Linked DNA regions of Homo sapiens: region 1 is linked to region 2. The links come from fine-mapping of genetic effects on gene expression. A gene starts in region 2. The other region holds a variant in brackets. All regions are shown on one strand. Distances are between the middles of the regions.

The links.
Region 1: its variant is fine-mapped to the expression of SLC22A23 in follicular helper T cells (Schmiedel 2018, PIP 0.93).

The regions. Positions count from the first base shown.
Region 1 is chr6:3,351,293-3,359,627 of GRCh38, reverse strand. All of the region lies in intron 3 of SLC22A23 (solute carrier family 22 member 23), which reads left to right. Among named protein-coding and RNA genes, the nearest start is that of PSMG4, 97 kb to the right of the region's middle. RefSeq lists enhancers at 2,595-3,485, 7,605-8,335. The variant A/G (reference allele first, on the strand shown) is at 3,918.
Region 2 is chr6:3,453,450-3,461,784 of GRCh38, reverse strand. SLC22A23 (solute carrier family 22 member 23) reads left to right here and starts at 4,735. Exons shown (of 10, transcript NM_015482.2): 1 at 4,735-5,879. The coding sequence starts at 5,226. It overlaps LOC643327 (a long non-coding RNA gene), which reads right to left and starts at 6,082. Exons shown (of 2, transcript NR_147844.1): 1 at 5,534-6,082. RefSeq lists silencers at 4,458-4,677, 4,738-4,967.

The sequences.
Region 1 (8,335 bases), 100 kb after region 2:
TCCAGTTGGCTGCACCGTTGTACATTCCCACCAGGAATGTACTGGTGCACCAGGGTTCCAGTTTCCCCACATTCTTGTCAGCACTTGTTATTTCCTGTTTGTTTGACAGCAGCTACCATCCTGATGGATGTGAAGGGCTACCACATTGTCGCTGTGATGTACATTTCCCCGATGACAGTGACGTTGAGCATCTTTCCATGTGCTTCTTGGCCATCTGTATGTCCTCTTCAGTTTTTGTTTTGTTTTAAACTTGCACTCAGATGGATAGTTATATGTGTGACCTAAGGAGAACCACTCAGTGATGAAGAATAAACGTGGCAACACCAGCTAGCATAGCTTAGCAGCATCTGTTATCTGCCTGAGGGCGGTGAATTCCCAGTGAGATGCTCATTCTAGTACTGTCCTAGAATGAAATGAGTCTCAGCTGGCATGTTCCTCGCTCTCCTTCTCGGTGCCCATCTTTTTCTTAGTTGAAATGATCTGTGATTCTGGATGCAGCCCGTGTTGTTCTGGGACGTCTCTGTATTGCACTAAATTAATAAAGGAGCTTTCATTTTTGCAGTTATGTATTTTGAATTCCCTATTCTCTCTTCATCCTGAATGACTGAGACTTGATTAGACATCGGCACAGCGCACCTGACATGGCGCTGACATGGAAATGCAATGGGTGGCAGCTCGGGGTGCAGACCCCACCCAGGATGCTGTGCCCGAGGGGAGCCAGGGCTTCCCTTTGAAATGGCAAAGGTTCCCACCATCCCTCCAGCCCCCGATGGCAGATCCCTTCTCACTTCTTCCTCACTGGAGCTGTGACTCCTTCCGGTGTTTTCCTTGGGTTGATGAAACAGAAACTCTCCTGGGGCCTTTTTTATTTTATTTTTTAATTTTATTTGTGGTAAGAACATCTAACATGAGACCCACCCTCTTAACAGGTTTTTTCAGTGTACAGCACAGTATCGTGAACTATAGACACAATGTGTGCAGCAGAGTTCCAGAGCTTATTCATCTCGCCTGCCTGAAAGCTGATGCTAGTTGACGAGCAACTCCCCATGTCTCCCTCCCTCTACCCCCGGCAACCATCAGCCCACTCTTTGATTTTCTGAATTTGCCTATTTTTACATGCCTCATGTAAGTGGAATCATGTAGTATTTGTCCTTCTGTGACTGGCTTATTTCACTTAACATAATTCCTCCAAGTTCATCCACGTGTCGTACGTGTCAGAATTTCATTCGTTCTTAAGCGGAATCATATTCTATTGTATTTTTCACTGTGTTTCGTGTGTCCCTTCACCTATCAGTGGACCTCTGCGTTGTTTCCATATCTTGGCTGTTGTGGATAACACTGCAGTGAACGTGGGAGCGCTCACGTCAAGTGCTTTGAGATCCTAATTTCAATTCTTTTGGATAAGTACCTGGAAGTAGAATCACTGGATCATATGGCAGTTCTAGTTTTAGTTTTTTGAGGAACTGCCATACTGTTTTCCATAATGGCTGCACCATTTTTGCATCCCTACCAACAGTGTTTAAAGGTTCCAATTTCTCTCCATCCTGGGGACTTTGATACTGAGAACCTAACCTGTCTAGCCTCTTCTGCACTGGCCGCCTTTGCAAGAGCTGGTTGCCTCTCTGAAAACTCTCCTCCCAGGCCTCTTCCCTTCCCCTCACCCACATGGCAGGACAGTCCTACTTCCTTTTCCCTTAAGGGAAGATTCAAATGCTGCTTCTTTGGTGAAGTCTTCCCCAGGCCTCGTCCCTTTCTTTGCATTCCTGTAGCACAGAACCCCATCTGTGTCTTATAGGCACGTGTCTCTTCATCAGACTGTGAGCCCCTTGAGGCCGGTGGTGTGGCTTCATCTCGGCATCTCCCCTGGCATGGTGCTACCTCATCCTCCTTGCTGAATAAGTGAATGAAATGCATTCATTATACACAGCCGCCTTCTGTTTTCCATTATTTGTCATTATTCAGTGTGTTCTGTGAACCAGGAGCTGGGCATGGCTTGTTGAATAAGAACACAGTCCCTAAACTAAGGAGCTTTTAGGCTGGTAACCAAAAAGGGAAATTCTAAATTTTTTTATGATAAGCTTTTAGATATCTTTTTGATATTTAGAATGAAGTAAACACAGTAGATGTAGTCCAATTTTGGAAATCATTTAAGACCTGAGCCTAATTGAGCAGGTAGAAAGCCAGGAAGAACACACCTACTTTGTATTTGCAGTCCTTTCCTCATGCTAATTGATAAGGCGATTAATCCTTACACTATTGCTGAGCCACAACCCCATTTAAAAATAAAAATTAGGAAAGCTGTCTGGATAATTATTAGCAAAGACTTTACAGAGGCTGGGATAAGTCCTCCAGCTGGTTGTTTGCACTGGGAGTTTTACAGTGTACTTGACCTTTGCTTAAGGTAAGGGAGTTTGTTTGGCAAAAACAATGATACATATTTCCATGGCATTGGAATCCTGCTGGATTTCTGAGACTCTGGGAATGCAGATGTGGGCACTGGAGTAAATGTGAGCATTTCATTACAGTGCCTGCCTTGTTTTGGGTTTTTTTTTTTTTTTTTTTTTTTTTTTTGGCTCTGTTTTGGTTTTCTCTTCCAGGCTGTATTGCTAGGTTTACTGCTTTAAAATTGTCTTTATGGTCCAGGCTGCTGCAGCCTTTAGAACAAACCACGACAGTTGGGATCTAGAAGCCTGCGCCTCTCCTAGAGACACCACCTGCATCACAGTGTCGGTGACCTGACCTTTGAAGGGGCCATTTCCCATCTTGGAAATGGGGATACTACTTGATATTCTTATTTATAGGATTTGGTGAGGGCATATGAGGTAACACATCCACAGATGCTCTGAAGGGCTTGAGCGGGATCCTGCACCTTATTACAGGTGGTTGTTGGTATCTTGGGCAGGTTTCAAGACCTGGAGGTTCAAGCCAGCCCATCTCACTGCTGAGCCAATAAGGAGGAAGACAACAGGGTTACAACAAAGCTTCAGGCTTAGGAAGAAATGTTTCACGTGGATGGTGTCCTGGCCAGCGGGTTTGGTTCTAAAATAAACACTACTGTCTCTGGGGCTGAAGATTTGCCCAGGACAATGAAGCAGCCAGCGGGAGGGTAGTGCAGAGCCGGTAAGTTTAGGGTCAGCTTTATTTTCACAGGCAAATGAGGAAGTGAGAGGCTGCTAAAATCACTCCTCTGAGGCTTCCCCTGCCCCTTGGATGAGGTCGCTGCCATCTCTGAGATGGGGGTGTGGCCTGTTACCCTTGTAGGCACCGAGGGTGGATCTAAGACACTGTTTTACCATCCAATCCTGTCAGCGGTTCCATGGCCCACCGGTTTCCTTTTGAATGTTTCCAGGAGCCAGAAGTCCAGATCCCAAGGGCTGGCACGCAGAAGGAGGGCCCTCCCGAGAGAGCACGCGTGCTTCGATTTCTTTCGTGATTATGAGATGTTTCTGATGTCACGTGTATCTGCTACCCGGACTCGGAAACAAGCCTCATTAATAAGTCCCACCCTCCCGCCTCCACCCACCCCCGCCTCCTCCCGCCTCCTCCCCCTCCCGCGCCCCCCGCCTCCTCCCCCTCCCCTGTCCACAAGTCTCCCCACCCCGTTTGCTGTTTTTCATCCTCATGAGTTTCGTTAGGTTTTCCCACATCTAGAACACTGCGTTGTACAGTTTTGCCTTTAAAAAAAAACTTCCTACAAATGCTGTCGTACTGTGTTTGTTTTTCTGAACTTCCTTCTTTTTTTAATACCTCAGCGTTATATCCAGTGGCTCCTCCGTGTCGATGCGGAGACAGGGAATGAGTGAGAGCGACGCCGGCTTTGAGAGCTGGGGTTTGTGCAGGGCTGAGTGAGACCTTGGGCTCCCGTGGCCCAGAACTTAAGAAATAGCAAATGAGAATAGTAGATGAGCCAGAAATTG[A/G]GAGTAAATTTGGGAAGGCACAGAAAGGACTGACCAGGCATCAAGTGGCCTAGCTCTGGAGCCTGGGAGTGGGGCTGATACAGGGAGCGGGGCGGGAGGGCCCAGACCTAGCCCAGACTCATGAGAACGGTAACCTTGTTATGACCTTGGCCTTCACACAATAACTTCCCTCTGCCCAGCAACGTCCTGTTCTCTTATACACATGGTAAGAGGGAAAATATCTATCTATAAATACATTTATATTTCTAAGAGATCATCATGGAGATTTTTTTTCTCGACCCAGGGAGGGTTGCTTTGTTGCATAGAACAGGGTGTGACGAACCCACGAGCAGCATGCTTGTCTTCCTCCCGTCTTTTAAGTTCAAAGGCTTCTCACTGTACCTAATAAGTCGATGTCTTTACTGATATTATTTCTGATTTCCAGTTTGAAGATGAGAAAACTGGTGGTTATCAAGGCCTCTCTATTCATCCCATTTTATTTGAAGAGCTACTGGATAGTATTTGGAGGGAGACTTTTTTTTTTTTAGCTGGGGAGGGTGGCGGCCACAAAGACAGGGAGCTGTTTCCAAGCAGATAGAGGGTAGGAGCCCAAAGATAAGGATTTGAATACTGCCATGTGGAGAGGCGCTGGTTTTTTTTGTTTGTGTTTTTATAAACTCGGTAGTAGGAATATCTTTTATTGTTTTTCCTGTTGCCTGTTTAAAGGAAAGAGTGTAGCACAAATTGTCCAAATGCCTTGTGCTTTTAGGGGCAGAGTTAGATACTGTCACCCTCTGGCCCTCAGGTCCTGCTTTGTCTGTTCTGCGTGTTGTCTACCCATGAACTAATGAGGCTGCCTGCTTAATTGACCTGGAAAGACAAGTGTCAGTTGAAGAAGATGATGTTGAATTATGAGATTCAGAAACCCATTACATGGCTACTTGGCCCAGCATAGTACCTTCCCCATTTGTTAGACATTCACTATTTGATTAATTAGTAAGAAATTAGAGATGGTGTGGATCATTGAAATCTAGAGCAACCCCTCCAACACCTTGACTTCCCCCTAACACTCTTACTGGGACATCAACTAAAAACAGACTGTGTTTCAGTTCATCCATTGCTTTACCCACTAATAAATGGTTCACCCATCCTTTCTTGAGTGCCTGCTGGATGCTGGGTCTCTTGAGGATGGAAAGACATTGCCTTGCCTTTGAGGCACAGAGTCTCTGCTATATCGATGGATCTGACCACAGTACAGTGGTCACTACAATCGAGGAACTTATTAAATGCAGCAGGGACATGGAAAGAGAATCTGAATCTTCTTGAGATTTTCTTTTGTTTACCCAACCCACCTCATGTAAAGATGTAAAGGTACACAAGTCAAGAGAAGGAAAAGTCTGTGAGTGCCTTTAGTCACTTGCTCCTCCGTAAATGTGCACTTCCTGTTGAATTTACCTTTGAAGGGTCCTGAAAGGAGTGTCTTTGCCCATCCAATGCCCTGACTGCCTCTCCGTTGGGAGTGCACCATGCTATGTGTTTGTGTGAGCCTGTGTGTGTGTTTTGCTTAGAAGTTGCATGTGGCTCTTGTCTTGGCCATGCCAACTCTAAGGAGAAAACACATGTGATCACCATCGAAATTTCCACAATCCAATCAGGCCTGCCAAGGAGGTTTATGGGTCCAGATAAGTGGCTTAGCTACCTGTCACATCAAAGGATTCAGTCAACCGACCCAAGGACCAGCATTTTTCCTTGTGCCTTCTTAGAGAAAGTAAAGCAGCCCACGCATAGGAGACCTGGAAAAGTTGGTAGTCTGGGATCTGTAAGGAGCCTCTGCATGAGGCTTCCTCGATGCTGTCATGCTCTGGGCCAGAACTGGGGTCCTGGGAAACACTGGTGGTAGAAGGGAGAGTCTGCCTCTACTAAGAAGGTGGGGGAATGGTGTGGCTTCCTGAGGAGGGAGCTCTTGGGAACAGCAGCCCTGGAAGCCAGAAATCACGTGAGTACATTTGGGTGGCAGTGCACAGGGCAGAAGAGCCACATCACAGCTTCGGTAATGGGACGAGGCGAGCACAGCCCTTTACCTGGAAAGGCAGTGGTTGACTGATCTAGTGATTTGGGAGCAAAAATTCCAGTAGCCCTAGTCTTGTGATTTGCAGCTGAACTGTTTTCCTAATAGTCTTATACATGTGATTTTGTAAAGCATAATGAACACCTCAATCAAGCAGGTGACATCGTGAATCCCAGCATGAGGGTCACGGCATTTCCCATTGAGTGGGATTCAGGCCTGAAGCCAAACCGCTCAAGCCAGATGTTGAGACACAGGAAGTTATTTTAACTAAAATGCTGTAGAAGAGGGCAAGATTGGCAGCTGGGAGAATCAGGCAGCACCTCTTCATTGGGGAGCTGGCTGTGGTATAGGAAATCTAACACAGACGGAGTTTCCCTTTTTTTGTTCAAATGCTGGAAAACCAGGTTTTGGTTTAAGCAGCCAGGTAAAGGCCCACAGTTATGTGCCTTTTATGGCCCTTTGCCATCTTGCCTTCAAAATCTCCAAGAATAACAGATTATTCCTGTGAGCAGGGAAGTAATAATACTTACATGTAATTTTAGATTAGGCGGAGCACTCACAGGTGAGACTTTGCATCTCTTGACACGGTCTGGTCGTTGCTGAAGAACAGGGTAAAAAGTCTTACTTAAAATTTCAGGCAAAAAATGAATATAATCACTGTAGTATTTTCATACATATTTTGACCCTGTTCCTCAGCAACAAAGTCCTGTTGGGACAAGCTGACCACTGGGGGTTCTGGTAGCAAGGTGCAGGTCACGGGGGCGACTGATCTTCTCCCGGGTGTTTGCAGGGCACGCGGCTTGTCCATGCGTATCCAGGGAGCGTCTCTAAACTGCTGTTGGCTCTGGGTTTGCACTATGTGCTTTTCCTTCACTCAGATTAATTAAAGAATTGTCATTTCTCTGCTTTTTGAACACCTGTAAGCGACACCATTTATCCTCAGACCTCCAGGAAGCTTGGCAGTTTTCATATGCTGTGAGAGTATGATTTAAGGACTCAAGTGAGTCCATTTTCCATGATTCAGGTGAGTCCCAGTAGCAGGTTTCTCATTTTCAGATGGAAAAACAAGAATGGCAGAGATCAGAGCCTTTTCTCCCTTTTGTTATGGCCGGGGCTTGGTGTGTGCTCACCTGCTCTCTTTCTCTCTGTCTGTGTATTTGTGTGTCTGCAAGTATGCCTATGTGTGTATGTGGCCGTGTATGTGAATGGGTCAATATGTGTCTGTGTGTGTCTGTGCATGCATGCCGGTGAGCTTCTGTGGCTGTGTCTGTGTGTGAGTGTGTCTGTGCATGTCTGTATGTGCTTGTGTTTGTGGCTGTGTGTGTGTGTGTCTGTGCATGTCTGTGTGTGCATGCTTGTAAGTGTCTATGGCTGTGTGTGTGTGTGTGTGTGCATGTCTGTGTGTGTATGTTTGTGAGTGTCTGTGTGTCTGTACATGTCCGTGTACGTGGTTTTCACTGTCAGAGCAGCAGGACAAGAGGCACTCTCACATCTCCTTCCACAACCTGCCCTGTTCCTCCCTTCCTTATCTGTGGTCCTGGTGGGCCTGGTTTTGCCATGGCCTCTGCCACCTCTCAGCACTCCAGCAGCCCTGCCTGGGGAGGGGAGGCCATGGAGTGCTTTCGCCTTGACGCCCATTTCAGAAACGGAGCAGCCTTACCAGTCGGGTGGTGGACAGTCATCCACCCAGAGCATCCCTCCCTGCTCTCCTGTTTGGTGTGGCCTAGATGGGAACTCCATCTGCCTCGAGGTGGTCCCCATGACTGCAGCAGCTCAGGCCTTGGCCCTGCTGCCCATCCTCCTGCTCACCTGGGGGTCATGTACATTTGATGAGAATGCATTAGAAACCTGGGTTTCCTGGCTCAGTCCTGAATGAAGTAGCAAGTCTCCTCGGGGACAGTTTTGATACCAAATAGCAGAAATATGGCTCCATAGGGCCCACCCTGTGGTACAGTGTGGCTGGGGGAGGAGATGGGTTACAGAATCTTTGAAGTGGCCAGTGACGTGTTCTTAGGCGAAAGCCAGGAAAGGTCGAGGGGAGAGAGGTTTCCAGAGCAGTGGGAGGGGTGGGCGGGAAGCCACAGAGAGGGCTGTTGACTGAGCCTGGATGACTGCTCATTAGTCCTGACCGTCCAGTACTTGTGGGCTGAACGTTCCCCGCTGCCTGGCACGCTCAGGGCAACCCCCAGGATTTGTGTTCATTGCCCAGCTCAGCCACCCCCACCCCATAAAATCTCAAGACTTGTCTTTCTGCCAGCACTAGCTGATAACATCAGATTATTTTTCCCCAACCCTTTTCCTTCGCCCCTTCGTTTTCCACCCTAAGAGGCTAAATTGCCTGGCATTTTCCACCGCACTCCGATTACACTGG
Region 2 (8,335 bases):
CTGGAATAAAACATATAATATTCACTTATAAGTCTTGGCATTGTGTTATTTTCGTGTGTGTGTGTGTGTGTGTGTGTGTGTGTCAAAGAACATTTTTTTTTCTTTTTTGAGATGGAGTCTTGCTCAGTCACCAGGCTGGAGTGCAGTGTGGCATGACCTTGGCTCACTGCAACCTCTGCCTCCCAGTTCAAGCGATTCTCCTGCCTCAGCTTCCCGAGTAGCTGGGACAATAGGTGCGCACCACCATGCCTAGCTAATTTTTGTATTTTTAGTAGAGATGGGGTTTCACCATGTTGGCCAGGATGGTCTTGATCTCCTGACCTCGTGATCCCCTCGGCCTCCCAAAGTGCTGGGATTACAGGCGTGAGCCACCGTGCCTGGCCCAAAGAACATTCTTAAGTACAGTAAGACAAAGATGACATCTATGATTTTCATCAAACAAAAGCCAACATCAAATTTTAGATCGATTTGCTTCACTAATTTTTTTAATTCAATAAAAGACTTCAAAATTAAATTTTGACCAAACTTTGAAAGTAACTGGGCCCTAGCCATCACATTTACAATGGAGTAGCTTTTTGCATAGAAGTCTTATCTTCACTTTTTCTGTTTTCACTTGGCCTTTTGATGAATTTGTCTTGTACTAGATGAGTAGGTAGTTTTTCTCAAGATACTACCTGTAACTTTCCTTAGGATAGATTATGTGACATTTTTATTACTTCTGTCACTTAACCAAAGTAGCTTTTTCATTTTCATTTATGATAGGTTTTGTAAATGTCAAATTTCTTGTTAAAGAGTCAGACTTGATATTCCAAAAGGCAAAGGATGATATAAATAATATTCAAGTATACACAACTAGAGTTGGAAATAATTTCAATCACTTTCTCCCACCCTCCCAAAATCAAGGTAACCTAATTTTCAAATAGTTATTTGAAAGGAAGAAATCAAGCTGCAGTTTAAAAAAAAAATGACACAGGATATTCTAAAATGTGATATATCTATCTATAATTCAAGTATAAAGACCATGAATAATCAGAGAAACCAACGTGAAATACATTTGGTATGACTTGCAGCGTACATTTAAAGTTAATTAACCCTGACTTGAATTCCTTAGAATTAACTTTTACAGAATTATAGAGGATTTAAAATTAGGTTTCCATCAATTTTAGAGGTAAGCTAAAACATTTTTTCTCCTGTTATCTCCAAGGAAATAAAACTGTTCAAATGTATTGGTGATTAGGTTATGACTTTCATTTCCTTTCCTTATTTTCTCAATTTTTAGAAAACTATAAACTGGTAGATTCTTTAACATACTTTCAAAGGAAAAGGGAATGACTCAGCTTCTTTATTAAGATCACTGGGTTCAGGATACTCACATAAATTTAGGGTCACAAACACAGCTACTTTTGGGGGCCAAATGTCATGCATGAGGGGCATGTGTCAGGCAGGGATGAGGGCAAGCTGGAGAGTGCCTGCTCATTTACTGCAGTCCAAGAAAGCACGGTCCTGCAAACATGGGGCATCAAAAGGACAATGGCTTCTGCTATGATGTTCAGAGAAGCCCAAAACACATTTTTTTCTAAGTATTCAATCTCCCAATTTTGAAATGTTAGCAATTATTTTCCTGAAAACATTGCCTATGGTCTGTGAGCTGCATTTGGCCTATAAGCCACCATCTGCAAGCCAATACTGCCCAAGAGAAGATAATATTGGGAGCTAATCCAGTAACCACAATGCCTTACAACAAGACATATAATTGTCAAATTCATTTCAAGTCTCATGTTGGCTGATCTGAGCACCATCTTTGAGAGATGAACAAACACAAAAAGGTTGCTTGATGATTTAAGAAACAAAGTAAACAGTTTGATGATTTGAATAGACAGTATCATCAAGTGATTAATAACTTGATACACTCATTTATTTGACAAAGATGTATTGAGTGCCTTGCATGTACCAGGCACTGTTTTAACCACCAAGCATACAGCTGAGCACAAGGCACCTATCCCCGAAGGTGCTTACATTCTAGAGGCAGAACGTAAATCTAACTAAGCAAACAAGAAAAATAGCAGCTGATGATAATGCTCATTCAGAAAATTAAAAACAGTAATTTTTTAACAGGTGTCTGGCTTTCCTATCCTGGTCCATGGATCTCAAACCTCACCCACTGAGGCTGTCAGAGTGTCAAATTCTTCCTCTTTACTCCTTTTGCTCACGTTATGAGATCACTTGTGGTATGTTTTAATAAATTGAAGGCCACTTTATTTTAAAGTAGTTACACTTTAATCTTCTTGACTAGATTTGGTGGAAATATCAATCCAGGAGGAATTTAGGGAAACCTCTAATCTAATCAACAGCTTAATTACAATGCCTGGGTCAGTGCTGCAGCTAGTTAATTTCAAACATTTTATGTTGCCTCCTTTTAGCTTCAGTTTTAGAGGATACCATTTTCCAGTGTGTCCCTAAATTCTAAGAATGTACCATTTGAGGATTTTTACCACCTTTTGCGAACAAAGACTAATAACATCTTCACAATGAAACTCTTTTCCTAGGGCCAGGGCTTCTCCCACGTAAAAATGCACATTAACAAACATCTTTGTAAACTCTTCCCTATAGTTGCCCCTGTATGATGAAATGGAGAAATCCGGTAATGTCCAGTCAGAAAATCTGGGTTCAAAACCAGATATTTGGCTCAGCTGGGGACCAACTCTTTGATCTGGTAGTCAGTCACCTGATCCTTGCTGTTTCTCTTTGAAAGCCCACTTCTTGGGGCGCTGAATGTGAGGACTGAGTGAGAGTGTGAATTTGAAAGCCAACTCTGAAACGCTGGCTATGATAGTTATTCTGATTGGAAGGGCCATTAAGGTCAATGGCAATGCTCCTTTTGTGATCAGTTACAAGAAAACAAATGGGTCCTTGTGACTGTGGGGGAAGGGAGGCAGAGCCAGACACAAAGTGGACCTCTTCTGGAAAATCAGCCACTGAAAGGAAAATAAATAAAATCCGTAAAGTTATATTTCAATTCAAAAAGAAATGTGGATTGTATGTAATGGCAAGAGGAGCACTGGTAATAATACATGTCTAACATTCATTGCGCACTTACTCTGTTCCAGGCATGGAGGTCAGAACTTTGCATGTATTAGCTCTTCAAATGAGGGGAGGAGAGGGAAGGAAAAGAAAAGTTAAGCTAATAAATAATGTGAAGTTGAAAAATTACCACGTACACAACGTGCACTATCGTGTCCCCCCCCGCCCCAAGCCCCCAGCTCTTTATATATGTGGTTTCCAGACCCATTTCTCAGCGGTCTGGTGTCTTTTGCAGCCCTTAGGGCCCCTTCCGCCCATTGTTATCTAATCACCCCTTCTCGGCCACGCAGGAAGGTCCACAACCTCCCCTGTCCCCCAAGACCCGCCCCCCGGCAGCCTTCAGAAATAGTTCTCTGGTACGTATGTGCCAGCATTTTATGCAGTAAACACATGTTGCCCTTAACACTGAACTGCAGGTTAAAAATGTATTCCACTAAATTGTGCAGCGGTTAGCTGAGCAAATAATGAAAATGCAAAAGAATACATTCAGTATATGGAGCTTAGAATATATCCTTTTGGAAAGCTAAACATTTTTTTTTTTTTTGCCCCAAATAAGACTAGAAATGGATTGCTCCATTTAAGACTTCCATTAATAAACTTCTCAGAATATGAAATGCCTCCAAAATGTGGGGACGCTGGGTTGAAAGGTGCCGGATAATTCTCTTTGGTGCGTGCGCTGGGTGCAGGAGGAAATATGCTAATGTAGCCGTTTGCCGCAGGGCTGGTGTTATTTATACAGCGCTGGCTGGGCAAGGTTGGCGCTGGAGCAGGAGAGGAGGGAGAGGTTTGTCTTCTTGTGTGAGAGTATAGATGTGTGCGCCTGTGCACACGGCGTTCCAAACGTGAATACAAGATCTTAGGGAGGGGGTGGGGAATGCCATCACGTTTATACTGTGTGTATTATAACTTGTGTTGGAGATATATCCCAGCATCGTGCTTACATCGCATGCACTTAGGAGTGGGGGAAGAAATGGCGATTTGGGAGTGGGTGCGGCGGGTCGCAGGTGGCCAGACACTGCGGGGGACTGGCGACCTGAAATTGGCAAAGGCGCCTCCTTGACCCTGCTCCACGGACACAAAAATCAACCTTATTCGCTCCTGGAAAAAGCGCAGAGGGTTGTTCCCGAAGGCTGAAGACCCTCGGGCTTGGGACTGGGAGCGGGGCGCGGGCAGCGGGACCGCCGGGCACCTCTGAAGAGACAGAGGTCACGGAGACCTGGCGCGCGCGGAGTGGGTGGGGGGCCCGCGCGGCTGCGGGAGCCCAGCCTCAGAGAAGACCCGGCCCACACGTTCTCAGCGCACGCCGACTTTGCCGGGACCCGTCGCCGGCCGGCGACCCCTGCTACGCGCGTCTCCTCCTCCCCCGCCCCGCCCGGCGCGAAACGGGCAACGGGCAGGGGATCCTCCAGCCAGGCGGGCCCGGGGTGTCCCGTTTCCCCCGCCCCCCTCCCGTGGATCCCGGGCGGCGGCGGCCGCGCGTCCGGGCTGGAGGGGGCGCTCGCGAGCAGGAGCCGAGCGCAGCAGGTGCCGCGGTTACCTCCACCTCGGCGGGGGGAGAGGGGGCGGGCCGGGGGGCAGGGAGGAGGGGGAGGAGGAGGAGGAGGAGGAGGAGTGGGGCCGGCTCCAGGAGCTGGAGAGCGCGGCCGGCTCGGCAGGCTGGGTCCAGAGCTCGCGGCTTCCGGGAGGCGCCCGAAGTCGGAGAAATACAGCGCGGCCACCCCGGGAGCAGCAGCCTTTGCCCGCACCGCCGCCCGCAGGGCCCTGAACCGCCGGCAAGGGCGCGGGCCGGGCGCGGCGCCGGCTCCTCCTCCTGCCGCGTCCGGCGCGGAGCAGCGGAGAGCGGCGGGCTCGGCAGCCGGCGCCCGGGCCGCGGAACTGATGAGCCGCGGCGGCTGAGGGCCCGGCCGGCCTCTGCCCGCCTCTGCCCGGCGCCCGAGCGGGGCCGCAGCGCCCGGGGCGCGGGGTCCGGCGGGTGACATGGGGGCGGCCTGACGCACCCGGAGCCGCCGAGCGCTCTCTCTCGAGCCGCGGGCCCTCCTCGGCGGCAGCGGCTGCAGGCGCCTGGCCCGGCGCGCTGTGCCCGGGGCGCCCGCGGAGCCTCCGCCGCGCTCTATGCGCCTCTGCGGGAGCCGCGGGCCCGGGCCATGGCCATAGACCGGCGGCGCGAGGCGGCGGGCGGCGGGCCTGGGCGGCAGCCGGCCCCGGCCGAGGAGAACGGCTCCCTGCCGCCCGGGGACGCGGCGGCCTCGGCGCCCCTCGGGGGACGCGCGGGCCCCGGCGGCGGCGCGGAGATCCAGCCGCTGCCCCCACTGCATCCTGGAGGCGGCCCGCACCCGAGCTGCTGCTCCGCGGCTGCGGCCCCGAGCCTCTTGTTGCTGGACTATGACGGGTCGGTGCTGCCCTTCCTCGGGGGCCTGGGCGGGGGCTATCAGAAGACCCTCGTGCTGCTCACCTGGATCCCGGCGCTGTTCATCGGCTTCAGCCAGTTCTCGGACTCGTTCCTCCTGGACCAGCCCAACTTCTGGTGCCGCGGGGCCGGCAAAGGCACCGAGCTGGCAGGGGTCACCACCACAGGCCGGGGCGGGGACATGGGCAACTGGACCAGCCTCCCCACCACCCCCTTCGCCACTGCCCCCTGGGAGGCTGCGGGCAACCGGAGCAACAGCAGCGGCGCGGACGGAGGCGACACACCACCCCTGCCATCCCCTCCGGACAAGGGGGACAACGCCTCCAACTGTGACTGCCGCGCATGGGACTACGGCATCCGCGCCGGCCTCGTCCAGAACGTGGTCAGCAAGGTAAGGGCCGCAGCCGCCCAGTCCCTCCAACCCTCTCCCTGCAGACCGAGGTCCAAGCCCGAGCCAGCGGGAGAACCGAAGTCCCCAAAGTGGTGGTGCTAGAGTGTGTGTAGGGCATTCCGCATTGGCTTAATCTCCTTCCGTCCCCCAAACCACATGCCTTTACTTGGGTGTAAAGGGAGCACCATAGCCTTTACTAGTTTGCACCCAAACTCCTGTCCCAGTACGCGGATGGAAAGCGCGCCCTTCCCCCACCCTCGGGGCGAGGCAGCTGACCTGTCACCAGCCCCCTCTGGAGGAGTCGGACTGGCGTCGTTCAAGGTCTGCTGGGGGAGTCGGGACCACAGCCCTGTTCTGCCCGGCTAGTTGTCCCTGGGTCTCCCACAAAGCAATAGTCTTCCATCTCGCACTTGATTTTGACACAGGTAAAGCCTACTAAAGAACTGGAGAGCCAGAGAAGCAAAGACTCCTGCAAATCCCCAACCCGCAGCCGATGCTTAGTCCTCCCCAAAGATATCTGACTTTAGGCTTTGCTACCCCAGTGTCTCCTCCCATGTTTTCTCAGCACTTCAGTAAACATCACTACAGTATAGGAAGGACGCGGAGAATATGTCATTTGGGTGTTCCCCGGCCGTCACCGCTCTTACACAGCAGCTGCTTTGGGCTGAGGCACTGAGAACGGGGGTGTGCTTTAGCTGAAACATGCACCTTGTCCTCTGAGTCCTGTAGCTAAAGCTCCCTTGCAGAGGTATTGCGTGGTGTGAAATGTAGCAGAAGGGAGTTGTGAGACAAGTGTGAAGGCCTAAACACAGAGTGGGCAATGGTGGACACTCAATGCCCCTAGACAGCTGTAATTTTATTCTTAACATATAAGAGATATCAAGACATTTGTAGTTTTGCTCCTTGTGTCTAAACTAATTAATTCACATTTTAAAGTAAATACAGACTCTCCTCCACCCCACCCGCTACCCATTCTGGGCTGTTCTGGCAGAGTTTTAAATGCTTTGTCGAAATGTATGAAATTGGACAGTTTTAAATAGTCAATGTGCATGTAACCTCCTCCCCCCGTGTGCATTGGTTAACAGTTGTAGCTCATGGATGTGTAAGATAAACTCTTACATCATCATAATCATTGTTTTAATCTTGTACCAACCTGGCCAGAAATGCTCTGTCCTGTGGGAACTGTCTGACTGAGCTGCCCCTGCTGCCCTGCAAGGTAATGGGGAAGGTCCTTCTAGCTGGGTTCACCTTGATCCCACCCACCTCCTACCCCCTGCTTTCTAAAGGTGTTTCTGTGACTGTTTTCCCTTCACGGAGGGCAATATTTCTTTGTTGGTTTAGCAGCAAAGAAAAATTAAGAACAATGACTATTTAAATCACTGTGTATGTCTGACAGACTGAGGATTTGGCAACATTGTTAAGTATTTCAAGTGTCTTTCTAGAGCAGAGGGAGAATAATGGATCAAAGTGAGTATGTGTGAAGAGCGCTGTGTCCTGGGGTCAAAGTAGAGGTGAACTTGAAAGTGATGAGATGGGATAGAGTGCCATTACCTTGGCAGTGAGGACCCAGGAAACAGCTATTCACACTCAGCCATGCACGGTGGGAGGAGAGAACAAAAATAGTTCTTAAAAGCAGACTATGGAGGCATATTGGAGAGCTGGGCAGTTTTTCTAAATTAGCATTCGAGAGGGTCACAGACAGCCCTCATGTGTGTGGCATGTTTTGGGTGATGCTTGATGACACGTTGCAGTTACTGGGCCAGACTGAGAGGGGAAACCTGGGAACAATAATTAGACACACATTTTCTTATACAGTAAAGCCTAGAAAGGACATATTGATTTTCACAGACAAAAAAGATCTAAATAAAGGACTGCCTTCCCAGTGTTCTGTGTGTTTCAAGCACATAACAAATGCTTCAAAGAGCTTTTCAAGCACATTTTGGCATGTTGGAAGGCAGACTTTTCCTGTGCTGCTGTGTATGTTGAATACTGTATCAGATGCACTAATGTGGGATGTACACTATGGTGAGTGCAGGAGTTCCAGGGGTCAGGTGCTTGTCAGCCCACATCCCAAGTAGAAGCAGAAAGTGGAAGGAGCCTTTGCCTTCTTTCAGTGGATAAAAGCTCAGGGTTTGAGAAGCTGCCTTTTGTGCCTCTTTCCTGCTCTGTTCCATGATCTTTCTCTTGCAAATAAGCCTCATGCTGTCTTCAGCATGTATCCTGTATTTAGTATGTATCCTTTAGCGTGTGTGTGCCCTACAATATATGCACCATTCTGTCCCTAGGTGTCAGAAAGGGAGAGGAAGACAGAAGAGCTACCAGGCACAGTTCTGGACCTCTTTCTCATGTGGCTGCTGGTATCCTAGCACCTACCTACACACGTGAAACTGTCAAGCCAGTTAGAATCCCAGGTTATTGTAGTTAAAAGGGATCTTAGGGCTGACCAGCCTCTCTCG